Linked DNA regions of Homo sapiens: all the other regions are reported to be linked to region 6. The links are microRNA targets in miRTarBase. Many come from high-throughput screens and were not tested one by one. Region 6 holds a microRNA gene; each other region holds the end of a gene's coding sequence.
Evidence for each region. Region 6 holds the annotated microRNA hsa-miR-508-5p (UACUCCAGAGGGCGUCACUCAUG, at 1,844-1,866, shown strand). A microRNA usually pairs through its seed, bases 2 to 8, with sites in the 3' UTR of a target mRNA and lowers its output. Matches are read on the target gene's strand: a 7mer-m8 pairs with bases 2 to 8, a 7mer-A1 pairs with bases 2 to 7 and ends in A, and an 8mer does both.

Region 1: the mRNA of TAF13 is a reported target of hsa-miR-508-5p. The part of its 3' UTR that is shown has no 7-base or 8-base seed match.
Region 2: the mRNA of TRNP1 is a reported target of hsa-miR-508-5p. The part of its 3' UTR that is shown has no 7-base or 8-base seed match.
Region 3: the mRNA of TMEM170A is a reported target of hsa-miR-508-5p. Seed matches in the 3' UTR shown: 7mer-m8 at 2,693-2,699, 7mer-m8 at 2,280-2,286, 7mer-m8 at 974-980 and 7mer-m8 at 606-612.
Region 4: miRTarBase lists RBM12B as a target of hsa-miR-508-5p. Seed matches in the 3' UTR shown: 7mer-A1 at 824-830 and 7mer-m8 at 3,053-3,059.
Region 5: the mRNA of RBM43 is a reported target of hsa-miR-508-5p. Seed matches in the 3' UTR shown: 7mer-m8 at 781-787 and 8mer at 857-864.

What each region holds. Positions count from the first base shown.
Region 1 is chr1:109,060,123-109,065,198 of GRCh38, reverse strand. It overlaps TAF13 (TATA-box binding protein associated factor 13), which reads left to right. Exons shown (of 4, transcript NM_005645.4): 4 at 506-1,059. The coding sequence ends at 676. Among named protein-coding and RNA genes, the nearest start is that of TAF13, 13 kb to the left of the region's middle.
Region 2 is chr1:26,994,205-26,999,273 of GRCh38, reverse strand. It overlaps TRNP1 (TMF1 regulated nuclear protein 1), which reads right to left. Exons shown (of 2, transcript NM_001013642.3): 1 at 4,662-5,069. The coding sequence ends at 4,804. Among named protein-coding and RNA genes, the nearest start is that of TRNP1, 3.0 kb to the right of the region's middle. RefSeq lists enhancers at 1-378, 1,160-1,279, 1,290-1,349, 1,302-1,596, 1,107-1,712.
Region 3 is chr16:75,443,448-75,448,523 of GRCh38, forward strand. It overlaps TMEM170A (transmembrane protein 170A), which reads right to left. Exons shown (of 3, transcript NM_145254.3): 3 at 1-4,241. The coding sequence ends at 4,111. Among named protein-coding and RNA genes, the nearest start is that of CFDP1, 12 kb to the left of the region's middle.
Region 4 is chr8:93,729,108-93,734,183 of GRCh38, reverse strand. RBM12B (RNA binding motif protein 12B) reads left to right here. Exons shown (of 4, transcript NM_001377960.1): 4 at 1-5,076. The coding sequence ends at 779. It overlaps CIBAR1 (CBY1 interacting BAR domain containing 1), which reads right to left. Exons shown (of 9, transcript NM_145269.5): 9 at 2,657-5,076. Among named protein-coding and RNA genes, the nearest start is that of RBM12B-AS1, 8.5 kb to the left of the region's middle.
Region 5 is chr2:151,246,275-151,251,350 of GRCh38, reverse strand. It overlaps RBM43 (RNA binding motif protein 43), which reads left to right. Exons shown (of 4, transcript NM_198557.3): 4 at 1-3,411. The coding sequence ends at 445. Among named protein-coding and RNA genes, the nearest start is that of RBM43, 13 kb to the left of the region's middle.
Region 6 is chrX:147,233,770-147,238,845 of GRCh38, reverse strand. MIR508 (microRNA 508) reads left to right here and starts at 1,819; the gene lies at 1,819-1,933. The region is part of intron 2 of LOC105373347 (periphilin-1); the gene reads right to left.

The sequences.
Region 1 (5,076 bases), not on the chromosome of region 6:
TTATTAAGTATTTAGCTTCTATTTTTTAATCATTAGAAATAATGCTGTGATAGGTCTTTGATTTTGCACAGGTGAGTATATAATGACAGGATGAGATAGAGTTATTTGATTTTTAGAAAACCCACCAATATTTATTGGGTATTAAGATAGAGGAGGACACAAAGCATAAATGAAATGGGTGGGTACACAAAATTATAAAATTATTTTATATAAATGAAGACAAAATCTACATATATCAAAAAACAAAAAAGGAACAATAAAGTTGACAGCTTTCATGTCCTTAAGATTTTTTTTAAAGTGCCTGTGAAGCATAAAGGAGAACATTGCTAATAATCCAGTAGAAAATAGACAAAGGACATGAGTAGAAAGATAATTCACAAATGAATAGCCATAATAATAATAATAAGAGAAAATCTTCTACCTCACTTGCAATTAATAAATGCAAATTAAAACAGTAAAATATTAGATTTAAAAAAGTTAAATGTAATATGTTTCTTTGTAATAGACTCACAAGGCAATGTCAATTGGAAGACAAGGTCGAGTACAAGTTGAAGATATCGTCTTCTTGATTCGAAAGGACCCAAGGAAGTTTGCCAGGGTTAAAGACTTGCTTACTATGAATGAAGAATTGAAACGAGCTAGAAAAGCATTTGATGAAGCAAATTATGGATCTTGACACTTTTTGTAGTTTCCGAAAATTACCATCTGGGGAAACCATATATAATAATTGTATATTTTCTAAAGTAAGATTCTGATATCTAGCCATGTAAATGAAAGATGGAGAAACACAAAGTTTTCAGCCTTTATTTTTATGCCTTTGATTTTAGGGTGATATTGGTGCATGTAATTGCCTGCCTTTATATTACCATACTTGAATTACTTACTGGGTTTTAATGACCACACATAAGTCAAAGTACCTTGCAAACCATGCCGTTGTTCTGACTTTTGACTATTTAAAGGATAAAGTAGTATTTAATGTGTTAGGTATGTTTATGCCCTTGTAAGCTATACTGTAGCTTTTTTTTTTTTTTTTTTTTTTTTTGAGATGGAGTCTCACTATGTTGGCAGGCTGGAGTGCAGTGGCGTGATCTTGGCTCACTGCAGGCTCCACCTCCCGGGTTCAAGTGATTCTCCTTCCTCAGCCTCTCGAGTAGCTGGGAAGTACAGGCGCCTGCCACCACGCCTGGCTAACTTTTTGTATTTTTAATAGTGACGGGGTTTCACCATGGTAGCCAGGATGGTTTTGATCTCTTGACCTCGTGATCCACCTGCCTCGGCCTCCCAAAGTGCTGGGATTACAGGTGTGAGCCACCGCGCCTGGCCTACTATAGCTGTTTAATATGTGAAATCTAAATGGCATTTTTGACTTGACAGCTCAGACTTGTACTTCATGTATTCAGAAGTTTTTAGACAACAATTAGTTTATTGTCTAGTTCATTATTAAAGATAATGAACTAGGCCGGGCGTGGTGGCTCACACCTGTAATCCCAGCACTTTGGGAGGCTGAGGCGGGCAGATCACTTGAGGCCAGGAGTTCCAGACCAGCCTGGCCAACATGGCAAAACCTCACCTCTACTAAAAATTAAAAAATTAGCCAGGCATGGAGGCATGTGCCTGTAATCCCAGCTACTTGGGAGGCTGAGGCAGAAGAATTGCTTGAACCCAGGAGGCAGAGATTGCAGTGAGCCGAGATGGCGCCACTGCACTCCAGCCTGGGCAATAGAGTGTGACTCTCAAAAAAACAAAGATAATGAACTGGTTTGCATTTCTTTTAAAGAGATGATAGAGGAAAATATAGTTTTTTGTAAGAATGTTTATCTCTCTTAAAAGATAATCTTTTAATTTTCTTCAGATAACAAGTTATTATTATTTTTTAAGAAAGCAAGTTTCACGGGCCGGGCGCGGTGGCTCACGCCTGTAATCCCAGCACTTTGGGAGGCCAAGGCGGGCGGATCACGAGGTCAGGAGATCGAAACCATCCTGGCTAACACGGTGAAACCCCGTCTCTACTAAAAATACAAAAAATTAGCCGGGCGCGGTGGCAGGCGCCTGTAGTCCCAGCTACTTGGGAGGCTGAGGCAGGAGAATGGCGTAAACCTGGGAGGCGGAGCTTGCAGTGAGCCGAGATCGCACCACTGCACTCCAGCCTGGGCGACAGAGCGAGACTCCGTCTCAAAAAAAAAAAAAAGAAAGCAAGTTTCACATGAATAATGCTGTGTTGGAAGGCTTTTTGATTTAAAATCTTTTCGGATTTATAACATCCTGTTAAGTTTTAGGAGAACCCGTTTTCCCAGAGCAGATTCAAGCTTCTAAAAATAAATGCTTTCAGTAGCAGGAATGGCATTGTTTAAAAAGCTGATGGCAGGGTAAGCATTTGGGTTAGTGTTTTATTAACATATTTGTAAGTACTTGTTCATTGTGGAAATGTGTCCTTGACTAAAACCATACGTGGCTATGGAAACCATGTTTGTAGTTCTGAATACACAGGTTTTGTGTGTATTTACTCTATGTATTAAATTATTATTGCCCTTAGTTTAAAGTAAGGATTACAATTGGATTTAAGTAGATCACTGAATGTTATTGTTTATGAAACTTAACTTTTTGTATGCTGCTTATAAACATGATCTATAAATCAGTGCTTGGGAAAATTTTACTTTCTTAATCTACTGATACAGGAATAAAATATGAACAATTAAACAGGTTGATCCTTGAATCTGACTGATTTGTGACTTTTTTTCCTCCCAGAATATTATGCCCATTACTGGTAATATGATAATTCTTGCTGCTTAGTCTAGCTGAAAATTTTTTTTATTTCAGTGAGTATCTGGGTGAATCTTTTCATTTAAAAAAGCAGGACTGGGCCGGGCGCGGTGGCTCAAGCCTGTAATCCCAGCACTTTGGGAGGCCGAGGCAGGTGGATCATGAGGTCAGGAGATCGAGACCATCCTGGCTAACACGGTGAAACCCCATCTCTACTAAAAAATACAAAAAAACTTAGCCGGGTGTGGTGGCGGGCGCCTGTAGTCCCAGCTACTCGGGAGGCTGAGGCAGGAGAATGGCGTGAACCCGGGAGGCGGAGCTTGCAGTGAGCCAAGATCACGCCACTGCACTTCAGCCTGGGGGACAGAGCGAGACCCCGTATCAAAAAAAAAAAAAAAAAAAAAAAGCAGGACTGGGCACCATGGCCCATGCCTATAATCCCAGCACTTTGGGAGGCCTAGGCAGGAGGATCTCTTGAGCCCAGGAGTTGGAGACCAGTCTGGGCAACATAGAGAGACCCCATCTCAACTAAAAATCAAGGCCAGGCACAGTGCCTCACACTTGTAATCCCAGCACTTTGGGAGGCCAAGGCAGGTGGATCACTTGAGGTCAGGAGTTCCAGACCAGCCTGGCCAACATGGTGAAACCCTGTCTCTACTAAAAATACAAAAAAATTAGCCGGGCGTGGTGGCATGCCTGTAGTCCCAGCTGCTTGGGAGGCTGAGGCGAGAGGATTGCTTGAGCCCAGGAGTTGGAGACCAGCCTAGGCAAGCCCCATCTCTGTAAAAAAAAAAAAAGAGCCAGGCACAGTGGTTTCCGCTTGTGGTCCTAGCTACTCAGGAGGTGAGGTGGGAGAATCACTTGAGCCTGAGAGGTCAAGGCTTCAGTAAACTGCTCACTCTGTCACCCAGGCTGGAGTGCAGTGGCACAATCACTGCTCACTGCCTCGACCTCCTGTGCTCAAATAATCCTCCCACCTCAGCCTCCCGAGTAGCTGGGACTACAGGCATGCCTGGCTAGAGAACCTATTTCACTGTGTTGCCCAGACTGAGTGGGGCTTTGCGTTGACTATTTTAGGTTGCAAGTGATATAACTTAACTCAATACTATTAATAGCATAAACAAGGAATTTATTGGCTTACCTAACCGACACATGGGAAAGGGGATGGAGCTGAATTTAGGGTTGACTGGATCTAAGTACTTGAGAAGCAAGACTGTCTCTCTGTCTTTTATCCTAATTTTGGTTTTATTCTAAGAGTGGCAAATGAACATGATGGCCAGCAGTTCTGGGGTTCCCTCCTTACAACTCCAAATTGAAGAAGCTGCTTTACTTCGTAATAGAGAAAATTCCAAGCAAGGATTATGAGGATCCGAGCTCTGCTTATTTTCTTCCTGGACCAGTCACTATGGCCAGGAAGAAGTTGTACTATAGCCCGGATCTCTTGCCCCACTTCTGGTAAAAAAGAGCTTGGAATGGGATTGGGATACTAGATACTGCTATTAGCAAAAAGGGGAAAGAGGCTCGGCGGGCTGACTTGATGCCTGAGCTTACTTATTAACTTCAAATTCTGGTAGTAAGGTGGCATGGCTGTCTTCCAGTATTTAGAGCTGCACTGTGTAAATGGTAGCCACTAGCCACATATGGCTGTTTACATTTTAAAATGAAAAATTCAGCTGGGTGCGGTAGCTCACGCCTGTAATCCCAGCTTTTTAGGAGGCCAAGACAGGCAGATCACTTGAGGTCAGAAGTTCAAGACCAGCCTGGCCAACATGATGAAACACCATCTCTACCAAAAATACAAAAATTAGCCGGGTGTGGTGGTACGTGCCTGTAATCCCAGCTACTCGGGTGGCTGAGGCAGGAGAATTGCTTGAACCCAGGAGGCAGAGGCTGCAGTGATCCGAGATCGTACCACTGCACTCCAGACTGGGCAACAGAGTGAGACTCTGTCTCAAAAAATAAAATATTTAAAAAATGATAATAAAATGAAAAATTCACTTCCTTAGTTGCGTTTGCTATATTTCAAGTGCTCAAAACCCTTATGGTAAGTGGGTACAGCATTGGACAGTGCTGATATGGAACACTGCCATCATCACAGAAAATTCTTTTGGACAGTGCTGATCTGGAGTATATATAGGTGCTCTCTCCTAAATTAATTCACTTTTTTTTAAACTTCCTATGGAAAATCTCAAGTATACACAATAATAGTGTAACTAGCCCCCAGCTTCAACAAGTAACCAACTTTTTGCCAATTTGTCCTATCCCCCTACCTTTAAATAATTTTCTTATTTTTAATTTTGGACCTTGGTTTTAGAA
Region 2 (5,069 bases), not on the chromosome of region 6:
TAGCTGGGATTACAGGGGTATGCCACCACGCCCGGCTAATTTTTGTATGTTTAGTAGAGATGGGATTTCACCCTGTTAGCCAGCCCAGATCTACAGGGAGAGGAGGCAGCCCTCCAAGGCAAGCCCTTGGGAGGCTTGAGCCCTGAGCATCCTTGGCCCACCCTCCTCAGAAGCCAGGTTGCTGACTCAGCCTGACTCACCCCCAGGGCCCAGCCAGGTTGGGGTGTGCCCAAACTCTGGGAGGGGCACCTTCTGCCACCCCTCCAGCATCTCATGTCCCTTCCAATACCCAAGGACCAAGGGTCACTATACACAGCCTTGAATGTGGGAGCCCAGATATCCCCCTAAACGGACCTCTCTTTAGCCTGATAAATGAATCACCATATATCCTAATGTTTAAGAGATCCCTCACTTATAGCTCCTATGTCTTTGGGCAAGTCACCCGCCCTCCCTCTCTGTTTCTTCACCTGTGGAAATGGGAATAATAACCCTTACTTTGCAGAGTGGTTGGGAGAACCGGAACAGATTAATGGGTGTAAAGTGCTCAGGGGCCTGGCATAGAGGAGGTGGTTAAGATATTATTCCAGAACCAAGAGTTCCCTTCCCCCATCGCCCCTGGCCAGGGTGCAGTCAAGGACCAATGGGGGAAGAAGTAGGTTGGGGATCTCCAGGCTTTCCCAAATACCTCCTCCTGCACCGCTCTCATGACAGCAGGCCTCTCCTTCAGCTCTGAGAAGCCTAAGCACCCGAGTTGTTCTTGAAGAACCCACCAACAGGGGAGCGGCTGCAGGCTTGGACCACCTTGGCCAGGTTCTGTGGCTCCAGCCTAATCTCTAAGAGGCAACACTGGCCACCACTGGCAGTGGGACCCTGGGTTCTGATCAATTAGTGTAACAAATCTGTGAATACAAAATAACTCTGGTCTTTTATCCTGATAGTGACCCCAACAAGGGCTACCTGTCTTTTCTGGAAGTCTTTCCTAATGGGTCTTCTCCCTGGGGTTCCAGGCTCAGCCCAACCAAAGGAGCTTCCTTTGCTCCCCCCTTTTTTTTTCAGTAGAGGCGGGGTTTCACCATGTTAGTCACGATGGTCTCGATCTCCTGACCTCGTGATCCGCCCGCCTCAAACTCCCAAAGTGTTGGGAGTACAGGTGTGAGCCACCGCACCCGGCCTTGCTCCCCTTTCAAAGAGGGTTCCCGCCCCTAGGGAGCCGGTGATGGGCACAGCTCTGGCCTCTAGTCCCACTCCACCCAGGAAGCTATCCCCAGAACTACACTCCCACTCTAGGGCTGCGCTGACCGCGACTACCCTGCTCGTTCTCCCAGGCCCCTGCAGCTCAAGGTCTAGGAAGCCCCGGGGACTACCGGGCAAAGGGATGATTGGGGGCAGGAACAATAAAGGACTGAACCTCCTCCAGGCCACACCCCTTCGTCTCGAGAAAGCAGCCCCACACTGCCCTCTGGTGGCAACGCTCACATGGTTATCCAGTTGAGGGGCAGGTCCCAGATTAGAACCTTGAACTGGTCTCCCAGCCCCAAGCACCAGCCTGAAGAAAGGCTCCTGTTCCCCCCTCATTTCCCTTTGCTGAGATATAAATTCATTGGTGGCCGTCAGTGTCCTCAATGCACAGGTCCCCCAAGATCCCTGTACTCAGTCCTGTCCCCAGAGCTGGGGGCCACCAAGAAAGTGTTCTGAAAGTCATGTGGGGAAAAGGGGTGGGTCAGCCTTCTGTCCGAGGCTAGAGCTGGCCTCCAACAAACTGCTCAGCCCCCAAGGGATCCCCTGGGATGGTGACAGCCAGAAAAGCCTGCCTGGAAAAGAGCCAGGAGACATAAGCCCTTAAAAGTAGAGACCCTCCTCTGATTTGGCTCTGCTTTCTGAGCCCCTATCAATATTTGCTAATTAAGAAGAAAATGGAGGCAGACGGGTGAGCTTTTTTTTTTTTTTTTTTTTTTCTTGAGACACAGTCTTGCTCTGTTGCCCAGGCTGGAGTGCGGTGCAACCTCCACCTCCCGAGTTCAAGCAATTCTTTCTCAGCCTCCCGAGTAGCTGGGATTACAGGCACCTGCCACCACGCCCAGCTAATTTTTGTTATTTTTAGTAGAGAAGGGGTTTCACTATGTTGGCCAGCCTGGTCTTGAACTCCTGACATCAAGTGATTGGCCCTCGTGGGCCTCCCAAAGTGCTGGGATTACAGGCATGAGCCACCGCACCCAGCCTGAATAAAGCCAGACGGGTGAGCTTCTAGAGGGGGCCCTGGAGGGTCAGGCAGGTGTGGGAGGTGCCTTTTGTTAGTTGGCTATGTGGTAATGGACATAGCACTAACTAGGAGCTGGGGTTCAAGTCTACATGTGTGTGCCCTGGCCAGGAAGCTTGATGAGGAGCAGTGGGACATCTGGAAGTGGAGGGAGGGGGCAGAGCTGCCTGTGACACCAGGACCAATCTCCATTTACTACCCTCTACTTCACACACACACACACACTAGCCAGTGTCGTCTCTAATTCTCTACTCACCCACCCCACCCCCAAATCGGGACAAGCTGATTACAAATAAATCCTGGAGAAAGCCAAAACTGTGATGGCACCGAGCACTTTACACCATTAGCTAAAAGCTTCTCCGGACCAAGTGCCCCCTCCCATGCAACCCAGAAAACAAATGGTCCTGGCTGCAGCCCAGCACCAAGGCCTGAGCTCAGCTCTTTCCAAGATGTCCTGTCCTCTCTAAGCCTCTAGACCCCAAATGACCCAAGTGGCTTTGGAAGGTGTTCCCTGTTTGGAAAGACCAGAGGATGGCATTGCCCCCTTCATTACTTCCCTGGGGTTCCCTAACTTTGTCAGAGGCTCTGAGACTCCCTCCTGAACCTCCCTTCCCCAGCTAAGAAAGGGTTCAGGAAAGCCTTGCTGTTAGCCGAGAAACCAGCCAAAAAGTTTGGTATCCAGGGAGAAGGGCTGATGAGGGAGGATCCCATAAGGGCCCCAAGCCTCAGCCTATCAGAGCAGTGCACCTGACCCTCCCAGATTCCTGTGGAAGGAAGCATCCTCCCCACTTCACCCCATTCCCAAGCCCTGACTCAAGGAGGGACTGAGGAAAGAGGCCCAGAGAGGGGGCAGAGTTGTTCTAAGTCACAGAGCAGACAGGATCCAGAGGACAACTCTCCCTAGCCCCTGCCCAGGGTACTGTGGGAGGTGCACACACAGGCCAGGGACCTTGATTCTTCCCTCACTGGCATGTGACCTTGAGAAATCCCCTCTCCACCCTGCAAAAGTAGGACTTTAAATTAGCTCATGGCTCTATCAGCAAAAGCAGTGCCTGTTTCCAGGTGTGAGTTAAAATAATACATTATCAGCCAGGTGCAGTGGCTCACACCTGTAATCCCAACACTTTGGGAGGCCGAAGCGGACAGATCACCGGAGGTCGGGAGTTCAAGAACAGCCTGACCAACATGGAGAAACCCGGTCTCTACCAAAAATACAAAATGAGATGGGCATAGTGGCACATGCCTGTAATCCCAGCTACTTGGGAGGCTGAGGCAGGAGAATCGCTTGAATCCGGGAGGTGGAGGTTGCAGTGAGCCAAGATCGCACCATTGCACTTCAGCCTGGGCAACAAGAGCGAAACACTGTCTCAAAACAAACAACAACAACAAAAAAATTATCTTTCCATGATTTAGTGAGGAAGAAGAAGGACCTCTGCCCTGGGTTAACGTCACCACAGCCCCTCTGGGAGGTTAAGAGATCCACTTCGCAGACTGATAAGTGAGAGTGAAATTAACTCAGCTGGTGAGCAGCAATGTGGTAGCCAGGTCATTCACAGTGGGGACAGAGGAATGGGAGACTGAAGGGCATCTGGACAGGAAGAGAAGCAGATCTCACCTCAGATCTGGCTCTTTAAGGCCCCCCTTTCTGGAAGCTGATACCACACCTGCCCCCTTGGGGCCTGTTAAAGGGTATCACCTGGTTCCAACCTGGCCGAGCCATCTTAGTAACAGGTTGGGAGTTAAGCCTCTAGGTTCTGCTATGTAAGGATCCCTGGGTGAGCAGGTGCCAGACATCCTGTCCTGGTTATGTGAGTCAGGCTGTAATTTTTGCGAACCTGCATGACGGCATAAGAAAAGCTGTCTCCTAGAAGAAGAAGGGCCTAAGTATGAAGAGAACAAATCCTAAACCTCTCTGGGATTCCGTCTCCCCAAAGGTGAAACAGGCCTAGAGGGGGAATTCAGTGGTACAGCCCTGTGCCAGCCTCCACCCCATCCTGGGGCCTCATTATTCTGTCCTCCCGAAGGCACGGAGCTGGGCGGCGCCAGGAAGCAGCATCCTCAAGGGCAAGACTGCTCACAGCTCCGAGGGGCCCGGGAAAGGCCACGCAAGTGGGGGTGAGGATGGGGGGTGCTGCATCCGTGCGGCAGGTTCCAAGTGGTAAAAGTTTGCCGCCAACCCGTTCCTGGGATCTGAGCCCCCTCAAGAGTCCAACTCTTATAATGGAGACTTGATGCTACCACCTCTCACTCTCCAGATGGTCGGGAGAGGCGGCAACAGAAAGTGGCAGCTTTACTAGGGACCCAGCAGACGCCAGAAGCTCCAGGGAAGGGAGTTCCCGGGCCCTGGACCAGCCCCCCACACGCCATGACCGACCCTCGAACGCACCAGCCGCTAAGACCGCACCTCAGCCTCCTCTACTGGGCCCCTGGCCCCCAACTGCCTCTTCCTGCGGATCCGTAGTCCTTCCAGCCGGCGTCCGCGATCAGTCGGTCGGTCGGCACCTCGGCGAAGCTTGTCGGGGTGGCCAGGGGTCCGGGCGTGGAGGTCAGCGCTGCGGGGAGGCGGGGCCGCGGGGCGGGCTGCGGCGGAAGGGCGAGTCGGGCTCGGGGCCGTGGCCGCGCCGCAGTCGCCCGGCACCCCAGGGCACGCAGCCGCCCAGGCCCAGCGCCGAGGCCAGCAGCGCGGGGGGTCGGCCGCGGCGGCCGCGGCGCGGGCCCTTCTTGAGGCGCGACCCGTGAGCCGCCAGGTAGAGCTCGGCCTGCGCCACGCCGCCGCTCAGGCGGCTCAGGCTCTCCGCGCGGTGCGCCAGGC
Region 3 (5,076 bases), not on the chromosome of region 6:
CATTTCTGCATATGGTCTGCTAATGGCACCGATGCTTCACATTCCAGGAAATGGTTACTTAGGGAAGGTTGATATGTGCTGCAGCATAATAGGAACTTAATTCAAACCAGAGCAACCAGAAAGGATACTGGAGGCAAAAGCCAAAATACAATTTAAAATCTTAAAAAAAATAAGGAACGGTTTAAAGGTAATTAATGAACTTTTCCTCACCTAGTGTAAACATTTCATAAGAAGTAATATTTTGTGGTCACAAAAAAAGCACAGATACCTCTTTTAGAATATTCATGATGCTCTTGTGTATGAACTTAAGTTTTCATGAAATGCTTTCACCTCAAAACCCCGTATTCAAGAATCAAGAAGGCCAAGCATGATGGCTCATGTCTATAGTCCCATCACGTTGGGAGGCCGAGGCGGGTGGATCACTTGAAGTCAGGAGTTTGAGACCAGCCTGTCCAACATAATCAAACCCTGTCTCTACTAAAAATACAAAAATTAGCTGGGCCTTGTGGCGGGTGCCAGTAATCCTAGCTACTCAGCGGCCAAGGCAGGACAATCACTTGAACCCAGGAAACGGAGGCTGCAGTGAGCTGAGACCATGCCACTGCACTCCAGCCTTGGAGACAGAGCAAGACTCCATTTCAAAAAAAAAAGAAAAAAAAATCAAGAAATCAGCTTTTATGGTCAGGAGGCTGCCTCCCTCCCTCTCTTGCATTTCTTTTTTTTTAAAAAACAAAGCAGAGGCCGGGTGTGGTGGCTCATGCCTGTAATCCCAGCACTTTGGGAGGTGGAGGCGGGTCAGGAGATTGAGACCATCCTGGCTAACACGGTGAAACCCCGTCTCTACTAAAAATACAAAAAATTAGCTGGGCATGGTGGTGGACGTCCGTAGTCCCAGCTACTCGGGAGGCTGAGGCAGGAGAATGGCGTGAACCCGGGAGGCAGAGCTTGCAGTGAGCCGAGATCATGCCACTGCACTCCAGCCTGGGCGACAGAGCAAGACTCCGTCTCAAAACAAAAAAACCAAAAAACCAAAGCACAGCTGGGGGAGGATATTTCTAAGAAATCAGTTTTTGGCAAAAATTCTCAAAACTATATAAGGTAAAATGTTCAACACAATTGCCAATATTCTTCCATCTGAGTGACCACCCCCAAATAATTCTATATTTGAGACATAAAAAAGAAAATCAAAGCTATTCCTTATGATTCAAATAGTCTTTCCCTGAAAACATTTCAAGCTACACCGCTCAAGCTATTTAAAATCTATATATATATATAGATTTATTCACTGGAGAATACTTCACCTACTGGGATGGATGAAACACTCAGTAATTTGAAGATACCTTTTATACGTTTAGTTTTTTAAAAGAGTAGATAACCAAAATATATCAAACAAGAAACAGAAACAAATACACCTTTCAAAATGCCCTAATTTTAAGTCTTAGCTCCAGTGAAAAATATCTAACATTTTAATCATGTATCAGTACTTCAAAAGTTACTGTTTAAGAGGAGGGGCCCACTAACTACTGGTCTATATGTTTAGTGTATGAAATTACATCCAAAGAATGCTTTAGGCAAGAACTCCTTCAAAAGACATTTTTCAGTAAGAGGCATCCTTCAGTAGAGATGATGGCAATCATTTCCCATAAGAAAAGTTACCAATTCCCCAGATTTCTTAAACTGAAGGGATACTTTTGAAAATCACAGCTCTTTAAACAAAAAACTAGAATTTTTACAATTTGCCTGTGAGAAAGATTTGAGCTTCTTGTTAGGGAATTTGTAAGAATATTTGGCTGCATTACAACTCTACTTATAAGTTTCTGCCCGTGTATATGTCACTATAGTTTTGATAAGTTAATTACCAAAATTAGTAATATTATTTTAAGACAGGGTCTTGCCCTGTGGCCTAAGCTGGAGTTCAGTGGCGTGGTCTCGGCTCACAGCAGCCTGAACCTCCCAGGCACAAGTGATCCTCCCACTTTAGCCTCTTGGGTAGCTGAGGCCACGCCCAGCTAATTTTTTTTTATTTTGTAGTAGAGACAAGGTCTCACTATGTTGCCCAGGCCAGTCTTGAACTCTTGGGCTCAAGCAATCCTCCCACATCGACCTCCCAAAGTGCTGGGATTATAGGTGTGAGCCACTGCGCCCAGCCATAAGTGGTCTAATTAGTCAAAAGAATATGTCCAGTTTTTGTGATCTCTTTGTAATTCTTTTCTATGAGTTTCCCTGGCAAATTGGTCCTCCTGACTTTTTTCTTTTTTTTTTTTTTCCAAATTGGGCAGACTCCAGAATCACAGTAGATTCAGAGACTCTCCTCCTGGCTATTTTTAATCAGAAGCCAGAGTGTGTATTGCTTTAAATGGAATAGATACGTTCATGTGTATATGACCTCATGGGCTGTTAAGCCTTAATCTCACAATGAAAACTTTCCTTTAAAGATGTCAGATTTATGGCCAGGCGCGGTGGCTCACGCCTGTAATCCCAGCACTTTGGGAGGCCGAGGCGGGTGGATCACAAGGTCAGGAGTTCAAGACCAGCCTGGGCAAGATGGTGAAACCTATCTCTACTAAAAATACAAAAATTAGCCGGGCACGGTGGCAGGTGCCTGTAATCCCAGCTACTCAGGAAACTGAGGCAGGAGAATCGCTTGAACCCGGGTGGCAGAGGTTGGAGTGAGCTGAGATTGCACCACTGCACTCCAGCCTGGGCAACACAGTGAGGCTCCGTCTCATTTAAAAGAAAAAAAAAAAAAAAAGTCAGATTTAATCACCAGAAACTATTTTGCAGATAACCACCACCACTACCACCACACTGATTGTATTCCATACAAAACAGTTTAGGTGGAAAGGATCACATTAAATACTTAATTTCTGCGATTCTTTCCCTCTCAAAGAGTCACAGTTTTCAGGCCTTTTAATGAAAAAGAAAGTTAGGCAGTAGAATAAAAATTTAAATAGCTAAAATTAAGTTTTAAAAAAACTCTTGATATTTAAATCTCTTTAAAGATATAAATTCTTTTGAATAAAAATGTAAAGGGGAGAGTGGGTACATATCTGAACATTAAACTTTAGGCACTTTCTGGGAGTTGATACCCAATACTGTAAAAGTGGGCTGAAGAGTTACCACTAGGTAAACACATTAAGCTAAAAAATCAATAACCACTAACTCTAGTTTCAGATGCACTTCTATAGTTTCTCAAGGGTCATTAGTATACCAAAGTCACTAAGAAAAACTATGACAGAATGCCTAAAGTATCTTATGTGTGCCTCAATGTCCAAACAAATCTGGCTTAAAATTTCCAACTCAAGCCATTTAATAGGGTATGTATGTTTCCAATTAAATGAAATAAAATTAAGAGAATTAAAAGTGATAGGGAAAGGTGGTACAGAAAATCTAAAAAGTCTAAATTAGCTAGCTTATTTTGATAAAACATACAAAATAACAAATTCACATCTCTTAAAATATCTTAATCAGAAGTCAAGACAGTTGTCCAGAAAATGTCACATTATTCATTGTTATCTACTTTTTATTTATAAACAGTGGAACCAAAGCCACTACTTGAGTTATACTTAAATTTTTTTTCCTGCTTTATTTCACCAAATTTGTTTTCAAAACTATACTCAACCAAAACCTATTTGGCATTTATTGTCACTAAGATGTAGCAAAGAAAAGAGTTTGCCAAATTTTAATCAAGATTAGATAAGATTTTAATACAACATACTCTGCTCATTTGAAATAAACCAGTATCTTCCACGGTTTCTTCAAAATATGCGACATCTCACAGAATACTGTAAATTTCAGTGCAAAGGATGCCACCCCAGAGACACTGTTGACTTGGCTTGGGTAAAGGTACACATGAAAACTGCTTAAATCAAATATCTACAAAAAAGAAAGCCAAAAGACTTGTTTTGGTTGAGAACAATAGGAGTCCACATAAGTCTTCAATTCTAGGAGCTTCAAAATGAAGAAAAGGCTGAGATGTGTTGTCCTTCATGTTCCTGTTCATCCAAGTTGCTTCCCTTTGAAGAACTAAGAAAACACTACACTCCATAATGTATTCTTTTGGAGGATTCCATAAAGTTTAAGTTCAACATCTCAGCATAAGGATGTATGCTATAGAGTAGCTAAAATCCGTAAAAAGGAGACCACCAAGACGCAAAATGTCTGTCCAGTGCCCAGTGTGAGGGCTTCAAATGGTATCATTTCCTTCCCTGCTGCTCGGTAAACTCCAGCAATAGCTGCACCTGATTTAAAATGCAAGAATGTTAAACAAAAACAAAAAACGAAGGTTAACAAACTCACGAAAATACAACATTTAAAATACTACTGCGAGTAGAATGTTCCAGATTTTATACTGAAATTTAAATCTTACAGAAATGTTAGGTTTTCCCTATTCTTTCTGTGGACTACTCTACACTTTGAGTATTCATTGCATGGCTTGCAAGATCACTTTTAGATGCTGACTCCTTAAAACCCAGAGTCTCCTAGATTTATTGAATAAAATAATCTGGAAGAAATAATCAAAATCACAAAGATAGCAATTCCCACATGACCAGATTATGAACTCAAAAATATCTGTATTCCCCTACCAGTTACCCCATGCCTAGCCTTCAACAGGGACCTAATACATTTTTGGTAACAAATGAAAAAGGATCTTTTGAGTTAGACTAAGCAAGAAATGTTTCAGGCCACAGGGAATCCCCACTCCACCTTCTATCACACTCATAGTTCCCTTCAAGAAATGGACGGAGGAGGGACTAGAGGGGTGAAAAGGGAAGACAGGAGGACTCTAAGCCATAAAGTTGTTATTCATTCACAGGGCATGAGAGGAGAGATACTCAGGGATTCCTTTGTCTCCCAAGTCATTGATTGTTTTTATTACGCTAGTCACTATAATTTCCTGCAAATTGGAAAAACAAAACGAAAACCCCTGTATCTATGCAGATACCCATTTGAGTTACTATACGAGTTCAGCATTATACCAAGGAAGTGTACCAAGAAAGTTAACATTTCATTCGTTTGAAAAGAATAGATCCGGCCGGGCACGGTGGCTCACGCCTGTAATCCCAGCACTTTGGG
Region 4 (5,076 bases), not on the chromosome of region 6:
CTCCAGAGCATTTTAGGCGGCCTCCCCCAGAGCACTTCCGGCGGCCACCCCCAGAGCACTTCAGGCGGCCACCCCCAGAGCATTTCAGGCGCCCGCCCCCGGAGCACTTCCGGAGACCGCCCCAGGAGCATTTCAGGCGGCCGCCTCAGGAGCATTTCAGGCGCTCCCGAGAGGAAGATTTCAGGCACCCACCAGATGAAGACTTCAGGGGCCCTCCTGATGAAGACTTTAGGCACCCTCCTGATGAGGACTTCAGGAGCCCCCAGGAGGAAGATTTTAGATGCCCTTCTGATGAGGACTTCAGGCAGCTCCCAGAGGAAGACCTTAGGGAAGCTCCGGAGGAGGACCCTAGACTTCCTGACAATTTTAGACCTCCTGGTGAGGATTTTAGGAGCCCGCCTGATGATTTTAGAAGTCACCGCCCTTTTGTGAATTTTGGTCGCCCAGAAGGTGGCAAGTTTGATTTTGGAAAGCATAATATGGGAAGTTTTCCTGAGGGGAGATTTATGCCTGATCCAAAAATAAATTGTGGTTCAGGTAGAGTAACTCCTATTAAGATAATGAATCTTCCATTTAAAGCTAATGTGAATGAAATTTTAGACTTTTTCCATGGTTACAGAATCATACCTGATTCAGTTTCGATACAGTATAATGAGCAAGGCTTACCTACAGGGGAAGCCATTGTTGCTATGATAAACTATAATGAAGCTATGGCTGCTATTAAAGATCTAAATGATAGGCCAGTTGGGCCCCGAAAAGTTAAGTTAACTTTGCTGTAGAGAGAGAGCATTTCTAAATTCAGTTATCTTCCTTGCAGTATTGATGGAGTAAAATACATTTGTTTTAAAAAAGTGTTTTTTTTTTAAATTATCTAATGAAATATTTTATTTTTGACCTGTGAATAGAACAAATGTAAATAGTAGAATGTGAATCTGGTTTTCTTTTGCTTGCAAATTGCCATTCTTTTTTTTTTTCAAATTTAAAATTACACATGCTGTTTTTTTCTTTGATGGGGAGAAAGAACTCATTCCCTGAGTTCATTCATTTTTGTTGATGTCATCGGTAATCTTCAAGACTTATTGAAGTAGAGTTGTATTTGGGGAAGATACATTTTATATTCACTTTTTTTTTTCTTTCTGTAGTCTACCTCTTTTACTCAAACTGTATAAGGAAATAGTGACTGATTGTTCAGGTTTGGCATTTTCATTGCTACCTGCCTGCAGAATTAATGCCCTCTTCCTTGTCTAAGATATTACTGTGTTAAGTGTCCTGTTAATTATAAATAGTTCAAAATGGACAGACTGTCAACTTGAAATTTACTTATGTAAAAAGCTTAGGTGATTCTTAGGGTTTCCATGTTCATAACTTTACAAAGCTTTATAAAAATAAAATTGCAACTTAATAGAGCTAATTAACTTGTATTTGTATAAAAAGAAAAAAGAATTGCAGCTCGATATTGTGAAGTTTTTCAATAACTTCATTAAACCATATTTATGATGGGAGGGACCAGACATTCTATAGTAATAATGTATAGTGCTGTGTATAATTCCATGGTTTCTTCAACATCTTATCAACCAAGTAAAATTAATACAAGATACGCAAAAGATAGTAAAATAAGAATCTAATTATAGGTGCAAGGGGACTCAGGCTTATGCTGGAAGAATCTGACAAGTGGTATAGTTTGTTTTTCTAGGAAGAATTTACTGATGAGTCACATAACTTGCATGTAATATTAGGTTCTCATTTTTTAGCTTCGAAACTGTGTCCATGCAAAGACTCTATAACTGTTAAGACTTGTGTGGTTGAATTTTGACTTCTTTGATATTCAGCATTTAGTGCATACATTTTGCAACTAGGGAATTTGATTTTCTATACCCACAATAATATTTATGGCTAACATTTATTAGGCACTTACTATGTGCTAGGCACTGTAAGCACTTTACATGCATAATCTCGGTATTCCCTGTGAGTACAGGGTTAATTATTTACCTCTATTTCACAAATGAGATAATGAAGTGGGATGAAGTGCGAGGTTAAGCAACTTGCTTGAAGTCATAGGTAGTAAATCGTGGGGCCAATTTTAACCCAGACAGACCACTGACTCCAGTTCATGCTTTTGCTGCCTCACTTTTTTAAGTGGTATTTTTAATTAGGAAGACCATGCTAAAGATACTTTCAAGGATAAATGATTATTTTCTCACTTCAATTGTTGGTTTAAAATTAGCATAAATAGGTAAAACCAGCATGCTCAAACACTGAGCTCAAACATTAACATTACTAATAAAAAAAAAAAGAGTGACTTTAAAAGTTTCTTTCTATCCAGGGTTTCTCTTGGGATACTCATATGGTATATTACTGGCTTATATTTCAAAATTATTTTATTCAACATGATTGACTTTGGCCTTTTATAATTTACATAAAACATAATTTTCCTCAGTTCTGTAATCCAGATTTTCCCCATTGAGTAAATAATACAATTAAATTTACATATGGTAATTTAGACATTTAATAGGATATTGCATAGGTAGAATACTTTGTCAGTACTTAGTTACTACCTATATGTATTTTTGTGTTACTTTTCAGTGATTTAAAGAAATCTAACAGAAATCTGCTTAAATTTGTTTTAAATAGTGAATATCCTGCTTGCTATGGAATGAATAAACAGGTAAATTTGATATGAAAAAGCACCTCAGTATGATTCTTTAAAGTATAAGCTTGTAAGTAGCTAGGATAATGTTAAATTGATTGTTTGGAATATCCAAACCAAGCACAATGAAGAAAGTAGAAATGATATTTTTAATTGAGCAAAGATTGTATAGATGGTTCATTTGGTCACCCATTTTGAATAATATATGGAAAGTTAAAAAATGCTTCTCAGATACAAAGGAATAAAGCTAAGATGAAGCTTAACGTGAGGGATTACTTACTGTGGAATTGCATTTCAAACTGGGCTGAGGTGGGATGGTGGTGGTAGATAAGAGGCCAGCTAGAGTAAACATAAGCTTTGTAGTTTTATTATTTTAAGAGTCAGAGTCTTGTTCTGCTGGCCAGGCTGGAGTGCAGTGGTCTGATAATGGTTCACTGCAGCTTCTAACTCCTGGGCTCAAGCTGTCTTCCTGCCTCAGCCTCCTGAGAGCTGGGACTACAGGTGTGTGCCACCTTGTCTGGCTAAATTTTTTATTATTTGTAGAGACAGAGTCTCACTGTGTTGCCCAGGCTGTTCTCAAATTTCTGGCCTCAAGCAATCCTCACTCCTTGGTCTCCCAGAATGTGTTGGGATTACAGGTGTGAGCCACTGTGCCCAGCCTTGTATTTTGATTTTTAAATTAATTTATATGAATATTTCCTTTTACCCTATAATGTATCAGGGCTTAATATTTTTAAACTTCATTATAAAAAGTTGATTACAGAAAGTGGTATCTTCTAGTTGGGAGCCATCTTTGCACATCTCTCTCCAACTCTGCCTTTAGTGATATGTCAATAACAAATTGGCCATGGCAGGAGTATTTTACACCATGGAAAGTGATAAATGCAGCAAATCAAGGAATTCCCCTCCTGTTGTCCCCTCAGAAAGCCAGCTTCCCAGCACCTCATCAATTTCAAATATAAAAAAAGAATAGTAAATTTTCATGTACACATCACTCAGCTTCAGTAATTGTCGTCTCATAGCCAGTTTTTCCTCTCCTATCCTCAAGGTATACCAGGTACACTGGAGGTGTATTCTCTAGCCTGATACCCAGTGGCATTTGTCTTAAAGCCAAACATTTTTGTCTAGAAATTATCTAAAAAAATGTAGATCATGTCTAGAAAGTCAATCCCACAACCAAGAGATAGGTAAAAATCATGTTAGGAGTGCATTTCTATTAATTTACTGAGATCACTGTTAAGAGCAGTGATTCTTGATCCATATATCACCTGTTAAGTAGTGACCTTGCTGCCTCTGTTTTTGCAGTAAATATTAGCTGTTGTTTATTGAGCTGTATTAGATACTATATGATGTATAATTATGTATGAATTAACTATCATTTAATTCTGATAATCCTAGTAAATGTACTACAGGTTGAGTATTCCTAATCTGGTAATCTGAAATTTCACATGCTCCGAAAATCACAAACTTTTTGAGTGCCAACATGATGCTCAAAGAAAATGCTCATTGCAGCATTTAAGATTTCAGATTTTTGGGTTAGGAATGTTGAACTGGTATAATGCAAATACTCCAAAATCTGAAGAAATCCAAAGTCTTAAATACTTCTGGTCCCAAGCACTTCAGATAAAGGATACTCAATTTGTATTCCTATTTTGGAGATAAGAGATGGAGACTTACAGGCTGGGTTGGTTGGATTGGTTGCCTGTTTTTTGTTGTTGTTGTAGTGGAAGCTAGGAATGGTTTTTCACATTTTTTAAGTGTACTTAAGTCTTACATGGTTACATAGTTACCTGTATAATAGTCTTGAATTTGCCTAAACCCACGAAGAATAACAGTATTTGCTATCTGGCCCTTTAAGAAGTTTGCCAACCTAGGCTGGTCTAAATAATGAAAATTTTACATTAATGAAAGTATTTTCATGGATAGTATTCCTTTTGTTCTTAGAATATTTCTTTGAGGTAGGCAGAATGTATGTTTTATTCCAGAATTACTGTTTTACGCAGTTTTAACTTTACAAACAAGGCAAATAATGCTCAAGAGAAGTTGCTATTTAGTAAGCAGCAAAATAATAACTCTGTTGTTTTCCCCCGAAGTACAACCAAATTTAAATACTGAGTGAGGAAGCAGTAAATATCCAATGATATCTTGAGTTTCTTAAGAATATCAATTTAGGGTTTTAAAATGTTTTAAATATTTTACAAAAAAGTACTGAAACAACTTTGTCACTTAGGACTATTCTCAGGAAGGAGTGCTTTGTTAAGAACAGAGCCATGATTGACAAAGTCAGAAGCTTTCTAGAAAGTCTTTATTTTTCTGTTATGAATAATTGCATTTTCTAATTATCCCAAATGATTTTATAAATTCCGTAACTTTTATATGCCTGCCTGGGATCCATGAAATAAAAGTATTCCTTACCAAAAGAGAAGCAT
Region 5 (5,076 bases), not on the chromosome of region 6:
ACCTGAGACTGCTAGAAGTGGAGAAATGCTTGTGCTTGACACAGATGTTTTTCTTTACCTGAAACACAAGTGTGGATCTTATGAAAGCACACTGAAAAAATTCCACATTCTGAGTCAGGAGAAAGTGGATGGTGAAATCACCACAATTTGTCTAAAAAGCATTCAAGTTGGTTCTCAGCCAAACAATGCAAAACATGTAAAAGAGCTCATTGAGGAATGGTCACATGCTCTTTACTTAAAGCTTAGAAAAGAGACATTTATTTTGGAAGGAAAGGAAAATAGAGAGAAAAGAATGATCAAAAGGGCATGTGAACAATTAAGTTCGAGATACCTTGAAGTCCTGATTAACCTTTATAGGACACACATTGACATTATAGGATCTTCTTCTGACACTTACCTGTTTAAAAAAGGGGTCATGAAATTAATAGGGCAAAAGGTTAGTTAATAAAATCTCAGCAATATAGTCATAAGGGCTGCTTTCTCTTGCTGAGCAGTGACCATTGCCATGAATGAGGCTAGCTTTACACACCGTATCTCATGAATCCTTATAGTCATCCTTCTTTGTCAGTGTTGACTATCCTCATGTTACAGCGGAAGAAACTAGGATTTGGAGAAGTTAAAACACTTTTCTGAAGTTATCCAGTTGACAAAGAATGAGGCTGTGGCTTAGCCCAGTCTATCTGATTACACAGATAATATCTAAGGAATAAAACTTTGAAAAAAACTCACCAAACTTTTTTTTTTTTTTTTTTGAGATGGAGTCTCGCTCTGTTGTCCAGGCTGGAGTGCAGTGGCGTGATCTCGGCTCACTGCAACGTCCACCTCCTGGGTTCACACCATTCTCCTGCCTCAACCTCTGGAGTAGCTGGGACTACAGGTGCCCACCACCACGCCCGGCTAATCTTTTTGTATTTTTTTAGTAGAGATGGGGTTTCACCGTGTTAGTCAGGATGGTCTCCATCTCCTGACCTTGTGATCCACCCGCCTCGGCCTCCCAAAGTGCTGGGATTACAGGCGTGAGCCACTGCGCCCAGCAAACTCACCAAACTTTGAAGGAATCTTACTTTCTCTGTAACTCCAAATTATTAGAGAATAATAATTATTAAGAAGTAGCCTTAACATATGAGAAATTTGAAAGGTGATTATTATGCCATGGGCAATTTCTTAACATTTACAGTTTGTGTTTACTCCGTGTAGAATTAGAATACTGGCAAAAATCACTGGGGAAACTACTTAGATGGAAAGCATATCTTATGCAGGTAATCATTATTTGACTAAATTCTATTGTTTCAAGGCTGCTGGCCACATAGGATGTTTTTACTATTTTTTTAGCCTAAGTGCTTACATAAAATGGTGATTCTTTTATAATTGTGCAAGTTGATAATATTAATTGAGTCATTCTTGTCACATCCAACTAAAACAGACTCAAGAAGCTAGGGGGAAAAAGTACTTGGGACACATAATATTGCTCCAAGAATGTAATTCTCTGTGAGCCTGGCTACTGAAACTGCTTGCTGTAACCTGAGACCAGTTTTGTCTATAGCTGCTGAGATAACTTGCTGTAACTCTAGGACTAATTTTACCTATGGCCATTGCCCACCAGTTGGAGCTTGCCAGCTCCCCAGGGCTTTACTAATACCAATGAACTTTCTCTTAAGATCACAAGTTGGCCGGGCGTGGTGACTCATACCTGTAATCCCAGCACTTTGGGAGGCCGAGGCGGGTGGATCACAAGGTCAGGAGATTGAGACCATCCTGGCTAACATGGTAAAACCCCATCTCTACTAAAAATACAAAAATTAGCCGGGCATGGTGGTGGGCGCCTGTAGTCCCACCTACTCGGGAGGCTAGAGGCTGAGGCAGGAGAATGGCGTGAACCCGGGAGGTGGAGCTTGCAGTGAGCCAAGACTGCACTACTGCACTCCAGCCTGGGTGACAGAGCGAGACTCCGTCTCAAAAAAAAAAAAAAAAAAAAAAGAAAGACCACAAGTAACATTCTTAGTTTTAAATAAAACCCTCAACCTTCTCTTTGTTTGTTGGACATACTAAAGATCACCTAGAATTGAAATTCTTTCTTCTCAAAACATTAAATTTAGTTTTGTGTCTACATTTTCATTTTGACTTTGACATGCATGGTGTCAGAAGTGGGATACAAAGCTGACTCACCTCATGGAGAATCATTGGCCTTTGGAGTTATGGCATGAGGTACCCATGTTGGGGCCCTTTGAACCCCCTACACCCCCACCACTTTCACAGGTAATCCTTTCTCCCTCCAGTAAGTATCTCTTGGACAGAACTCTCAGATATGGTTCGAGTTCTGTTTTATTTGGGATATGATTAGGGAGAGGTCTTTCCCCCTCTTGTTTGGTAGATCTGTTGGGTAGAATTATTTTCCCCCTGTTGACCTCAGCTGCGAGGTTTGGACCTTGAGGCTTGGATGAGGGAATTTTTCCCTTTCTTTGGAGAAGGCTTATCATTCTTACTGGTAAGCATGTATTTTATTTTCTGTCCTGTCTTGTATTTATTTGGCCTTTGTGTATTCAGTGCTTGCATTTACTTGGCTTTTGCATAGTTGACATTAAATCAGAGCACCCACGAAATGAGCTCTCAAAGTTCAAAGGCATGCCAGAATATTTTCTGGAACTCCAGCTAGTAACATATTCAAACATTACAGGGATCATTTAGTCTGTTTTTCTTAAAACTGAACTAAAAGATGGAGGCTATAAAATCATACACTCCAAATAAGATATGCATATTTCATTGATATCTTGAGGCTAAAAAAAAATAAAAACAAAAACAAAACACATTCAGGATACAAATATTGCCTTGTTAAAAAATACTGTCTCAAAGGTGGCTGAAACTTTCTTTTCTAGACCTTTCCCCTCCCCTTCTTACAGTATCCCCTCTTTATCCTTCTCTAAACAGCTATTCTAACATACTACTTAAATAAAAACACTTGAAAACCAGCAGATATAAAACAAAGTCATTTTGACCTTCCTACTGTTTTTTTTTTAAAGCAAAGATTAAATTCCCATGTAAAACCTTCCTCCCTATACAAAAAAGAATAGCAGCATTTTTATCTTCAATGACAAAGAATTGAGTCCAAGAAAATACTGTATAAACCTTGTTAAAAATCACTCTTGTCTTTTGGTCCTACTCACATAATTCAGCACACTTTCACAGTTAACTATTTTTTGTTCAATTTAGTGCACTGGTGAGTGACTCAAACTGCTTTATCCCAAATTTGATTTACAGCCTTTATAAGATTGCCTATTAAAAAAGCTTAAAGCTTATCCTTAGCCCATTTTGTCAGAAAAATAATTTGCATCTAATCATTTTTATAAACTGGTGAATTTACGTGTTTTACTATATCATGACTAAAATTCTAAAATAAAAGTTTTAATATCTTTATGTATATGTGTTTAAATGTGTTTATGTGTATGTACATATATTATGTTGAATGTTGTATCTACATAAAAGCTGGTGTAGTCAGCCAGAAATCCCTTAACAAATTTTATTCTGATTGGTTTAAATAAATGAGCACTCATATAAAATGTATAGTAATTAACCCCCAGTTTTTTTTAGTTGATGTGACTTAAGTAAATCTTTGATAAATTAATTGGTTTTAAAATTGTGGATAAAATAAAATTAGAAATGTCTTCAAAATTGTCAGCAGACATTTTTGTCTGGGTTTACTGGTCAGACAGTTTTATATTTGCCTCTGCTAGATGTTTTAAAGTCATAAAGCCTAAAACAAAATGATCTTTGTTTATATAGTTTTTAAATAAATATGATTATATTGTTGTTTTAATAAAAATAGCTGTAACTTTTCTGAGTTAGCAACAGGGTGGCTGTTTTTAACTTTAAGGTTCTTACTTAAACCTTAATATCAAGATAAATACTTCATGGTAACAGTCTATAAAACTGATTAATAAAAACAATGACTAGTTCTATCTCAATTTTCATAAATCTAGGAATAATTGAGAAATAAATCTTATAAATGAAATAAACATTTATAAATGAGCTTTTCATGTAATTTTAAAATCTTAAAATTATGTTAAATGATACTCATTAAATGTCTGGATCATATCCAAATTAAAAAAAAATTGCTAAATACATAGACATTTGTTCTTGGCTTCTTAGGTTTTATAAAAGGACTAAAAGTATTTCGGTCTATTAATCAAAATATAAATTTAGGAAAATACAATTGATGTATTAAAAATTATATGGTAAATTTTTATCCTAAGATAAAATAATTGGTTGTTAAAAATTTTATTTTTTATTTTTATTTTTTGAGACCGAGTTTTGCTCTTATTGCCCAGGCTAGAGTGCAATGGTGCAGTTCCAGCTCACTGCAACCTCTGCCTCTTGGGTTCAAGTAATTCTCCTGCCTCAGCCTCCCAAGTAGCTGGGATTACAGGCACCTGCCACCACACCAGGCTAATACATTTTTTTTTTTTTTTTTGAGACGGGGTCTCACTCTGTCACCCAGGCTGGAGTACAATGGCGCGATCTTGGCTCACTGCAACCTCTGCCTCCCGGGTTCCAGCGATTCTCCTACCTCAGTCTCCCTAGTAGCTGGGATTACAGGCATGCACCACCATGCCTGGCTAATTGTTGTACTTTTAGTAGAGGGGGGTTTCACCATGCTGGCCAGGCAGGTCTCGAACTCCTGACCTCAGGTGATCCACCCACCTTGGCCTCCCATCTTCCTGGAACTTTTTGAAACAGCAAGAACTCAAGGTGCAACAGTTACAGGTGGATACTTTTTCATAGCACATACCCCCAAAAACCTGGGGATCCTGGGTTACATAATGAGCTCCTTCTTGGATTATTTGCAAGAGTCTTCTAAGTGGGCCTTAATTCACCCTGTACACCACTACCAAATTCATGTGTCTGAAGTGATTCCTGGTATCTGGGAGGCTTAGACTGGAGGTCTGGTGTTAATTGCCCCACTCTGAAATTTCACTGCTATATTTAATATTTAATCATTTTATTAAATATTTAATATTTAATCATTTTATTAAATATTTAATATTTAATCTCGTATTGTCTTTTTTACCCACTTATAGCATG
Region 6 (5,076 bases):
AAATTCAGTGGAATTAAGTAAATCCACAGTGGTGTGCAATGATCACCACAATCCATCTCCAGAAATGATTCATTATCCCAAACTAAACCTCTGTAACCATTAAACACTGACTCCCCATTCCCAGCTCTTGGTAACCTCTATTCTACTTTCTGTCTCTCCTAGTTTGCCTATTCCAGGGACTGAATAGAATAAAATCATACAGTAGTATTCCTTTGTGACTGCTTTATTTTACCCAGCATATTGTCTTCAAGGTTAATCCATGTTATAGCATGTGTCAGAATTTTATTTCTAAGCTGGACATGTATGCACATGACTGTAGTCCCAGCTACTCAAGAGGCTGAGGCAGGAAGATCGCTTGAGTCCAAGAGTTAGATTCTAGCCTGAACAACATAAGGAAACCCAGTTTAAAAAGAAAATTATTTCCTTTTGTAGGGCAAATAACATTTCCTTGTATGCATATACCACAGTTTGCATATCACTTTATCTGTTGATGAACACTTGTATTGCTTCTACCTTTTGTCTATTATAAATAATGCTGCTTTGAACATGGGGGCACTATGTCCCTTTGAAATACTGATTTCAGTTCTTTTGGGTATATACCCAATACTGCAATTGCTGAAATATGGTAATTATATCTTTAATTTTTTGAAGAACCACCATAGTGTTTTCTGTGGTGACTGTGCCATTTTACTTTCCTACCAGCAATGCACGGGGTTATAATTTCTTCACTTGTCAACACTTGTTATTTTCTGTTTGTTTGCTTGTTGATAATATTGATTCTAATGGGTGTGAAGTCGTATCACATTGTGGTTTTGGTTGCATTTCCCTAATTAGTGATATTGAGCATTGTTTCACTTATTTATGAGGTAGAATTGATTTTAGAAATATTTTTGTTTGAGTTTTGATTTATTGGTGTGTAGCTGTAGACTTGGGTCATTTTGGACTACTGACACTGGTGGAGGTTCCTGAATGCTGGGAGACCTGGACATGTCCAGATTAAATGTCCCACACCATAATCTCCCTTTCTCTTGCTCCATGGCAAGTAATTTAGCTAATCCTTTAATTTATTCAGTGCACCTCCCTCTCTCTTTACAGTCTTTTGTTTAACTTGGCTCCCTAGCTCTTAAAATATAACTAGTTTGGGGTCTGTGGATCTCTTACTCCTACTTGCTTCCCCCTTTCTTCAGCCTCAGTATTGAAAGGAAAAAATAGATTCCTGGGAGGCCTGTGTCTCCAAATGAAAATTTTGAAAGAGACCCTCTTGACAAGAACTCTAGGAAATGTTGAGAAAGTCCAGGGCTGAGAAGGAAGAATAAGATATAACTAGGTTCTAAGCCAATTGCTCTCTTGGAAATGATTCCAGGCAAGGTAAATGATCTGTATAATCCCCAGGAATGGTGGAGAAAATGAGATTTTTGTCCTATGAATCCTGGCACTGCCTAAATGATCTATCTCTTTTGCTTGAATTCTCTGCATGTTTACCTTGTTCTCTCTGTTGTTTTGGTGTTAAAAGTTAAATAACTCTGAACCAAGGGACTAGGAATTTGGGGGCACAGAGGGTGGGGAGACCTTTAACACTGGTGGAACACAAATCATTTTTAATATGCCATTCCTAATGACTTGAAAATACATAGGAAAATGTTGGTGAGATTATTTGTTGCCGACTGAAGAGAAGAAGTCCTCAAAATCAGCACATGAAATATGCAGCAAGTAAGAGTATCCTCACTAAAGGATGGTTAGAGAATGGGAATGGAGTGGCAAACATACTAGAAATTCTTCATCGTATCTAAACTTCACGTATATATTTGGGTAGAGCCACCACCTTCAGCTGAGTGTAGTGCCCTACTCCAGAGGGCGTCACTCATGTAAACTAAAACATGATTGTAGCCTTTTGGAGTAGAGTAATACACATCACGTAACGCATATTTGGTGGCCATGGGTGTGAGTGTATACAGCCGCATGCACAGAGCTGCCCTCCCTTGTGTCCAAGCACCACCCTCCCCTTGCTGGGCTAACTCAATGGACTCCCATAGGCAGGTCTTGAAAGGCAAATCCTAGGGACTGAGGGCTCCCAGGAAAAATCACCCATGTAGGCTTTCCGGGGATTTATATACCCTTGTCCAAAGGAGGCATGCCCACACAGGTAAGAAAATTTGTAGTGAGGATGTGGCTTTTCCTCTTTTTATATTCAGAGCTTCTACTGCTACAGAGCCCAACTATTCATTTTGCCTTGAAAAACCTCCAACGTATTTTTCCTCACAACATTTCTTTTAGCTTCCAAGCCTTTTCATTTCCCAGTGGGCTCTTCAAATTCCCTCCTGCCTCAGAAGCATCCCTCTGCACCAAAAAGCTCTTGCTCTTTCAGGATTGAAGACAAGCCTTTCCTTAAGAGTTTGTGTGTTCTTCCTTACTTGGAAAAATACATTATTTCCAAAATTATCTATCTGTTGGTTAAAAAAAAAATATATATATATATAAAATATTTATGTATATATTTTTAAAAAATATTTATATGTATATTTTAAAAAATATTTATTGAAAATATGTGTATATCAGTCCTTTCTAAATTCAACATATCTATAAAAGGTTAAGAAGTTGCCTAGAATATTTGTTTTGTTAGTTTTCTTTGAATTATATTTAACATTTTATTTTTAAAATTATATGAAGGAATAAAAAGAAGTGAAGGTATTCATCTCAGATTATTGAGAATGATAACATATATATTTGTCTTTTCCCTTCCACTTCCCTTCAGTTGCTCCTTCTTAACCTAAGGTCTTCAGAAAGAAAACTTGAGAATCACAGACAAAAGATGGCCAGCGCCGGATCCCTGGAGAACATCTTCAGACTGGAGCAGTGACTAGGAAGCAGGTTGTACACACTACGGTGCTGGAAAAATGGAGGTGGAGTGGGGTTGGAGGGTAATCATCCTGGTGACCCCTTCCGGATTAATTCTCATAAAGCACCTTAAGTGGGCAAGTTGAAGTTTATGGAATTTTGTTGTCATCTCGAGTCAGTGACATGTCTCACTCCGTTCCAAATCTTGGCAAAAATTTAGATTGTAATCAAGAGGAAGGGTATTCTTCTCTTATATCACTAATACTACTACATTATCGCCTGTGTACAACCAGTGTCTACTGCTCATGGTATCTTCTTCCCTATTTCATGAGCTCTAAGAGTTTTCCTGGGCAGAAAGTCTCACCACCCTAGATGTGTGTCTGGGGCAGTGACAGTGGCACCACTGCAAATTGTTCTCAAATTTGTGCTTATTTTTGAGAAGGTGTGAGTTTGTGTGTGAGTATGTGTGTGTTGGTTTTTACAAATGAGTTAATTTAGTTAGTTGATTCGTTCATGTGCATATTGTGGTTGGGTTTGGGGGGACTTTTCAAATTGTTTTTGCTTAGTAATATTGTTTATCCAGACATTGGTAACTGTCTGATTTTGGTTTTGTTTTTGTTTTTTGTGATATTATTTTGTTTATAATTGTCCTTTCATTTCCAGTCTCTGTGCATTTATTTTTCAAAGTTGGTTCTTCCTTTTTAGGTTTATTTGTTTATTTTGTTTGCTTGTATTATTATTTTTAACTGACACATAATCATTGTACATATTTTGGGGGTACAGTGTGATTTTTTATTGTTTGCAATTCAGTGTTCATGGCACCTCTGCTTGTTGTTTCGTTGCATACTTGAAGTTTTTTTTTTTTTTTAAGTTAGAATTGTGGTTTGTGTTTCAGCAAATGTTTTATTCCTGTTTCGGGGGGAGGGGGCTGTCATGATTTAATTATTAGTTGTTGGTTCCAATCTGAGTTTTCTTCTTTGGTTTTGATTTGGTTTTAATTTATGCGTTTGGTTTGATTTGTACTGAGAGGTGCTTGGGAGTTGTTTTAGTTGTAGTTTCCTTTGTGTATTTAGACATGTTTGTTTCTTTCCTGCTGTTTTGCTATATCTTTCTTTGTTTTATTCTCTAGTGTATTTCTATTTGCTTTTCAGCTGACTTTTTGTGTGTATATGTGAGTGGGTGGGTGGGTGGATGGATGTGGGTGTGTATGCGTGCATTTCTGTGATTATTTTTGAATGATGTTGACTTCTTTAAAGTATTTTGTTATTTTCCATGTATTTTTAGTTTCAGTTTGTGTTTATTGTTTTATTTTGTGTGTGTGTGTGGGGGGGGGGGGTTCTTCATTTTCCTTGTGTTTTGGGATATTTAAATTTGTATGAATTTTGTTTTGTTGCTGTAGTTATTTTTTCCCCTTTAATTGTGTGGGGCTCAGAAAGTTTTGTCTTTCATATATATGTGCGCTTTATTGGGGATGTGTTTTTTTTTTTAAGTTGTGGGAGTTTGCTTGGATTTTAAATGTTTTGCCTCAGTATCTGTGTGTATGCTTACATGGTTTGGTATTTGCAACATGCTTTCTAATTGATAAGTTCATGTATTGATTCTGTTTGGAATTTGTTGTAGTTGATTTATTTATTTATTTTAATCCTGTTTGTTGAGCTTTTCTAATTTGGGATGATTGTTGATAGGGGTTTAAAAATATATTATTGGTTTACTTTTTAGTTTTTATTTATTTGTGCCCTGTTTTTCTGATTCATTACTTTTTAAAAAATCATTTATAGAAGTTTTGGTACATAAGGCTAAAATTTCTTTCTTTTGTTAGGGATAATTTGCATTATTTGTTGATTGATTTTTTTTTTTTAGCTTATATGGTTTTTTTGAATTGTGTGTATGAGCATGTGTTTGTTATTTTGAGATTTTTGTATTGTGATAGCTTTAGTTCTTAAAAAGCGTCGTTGATACATGACTGACATAAAGTTTGCGCTTTGACATATTCTGTTTATACACCCATGAAATCATCCCCTAAATCAAAATAAATAGGGAATATTATACATCCTCCCTGAAAGATTCCTCCTGCCTCTTTGTGATCCTCATTTTCGGTCTTCTGCACATAACCACAGAGCCATGCAGCCACTAATCTGCTTTTATTCACTATGGATTAGATTTTATTTTCCAGATTCTTATTTTTTATTTTTTGAGATGGAGTCTCTCTCTGTCACTCAGGCTGGAGTGTAGTGGCGTGAT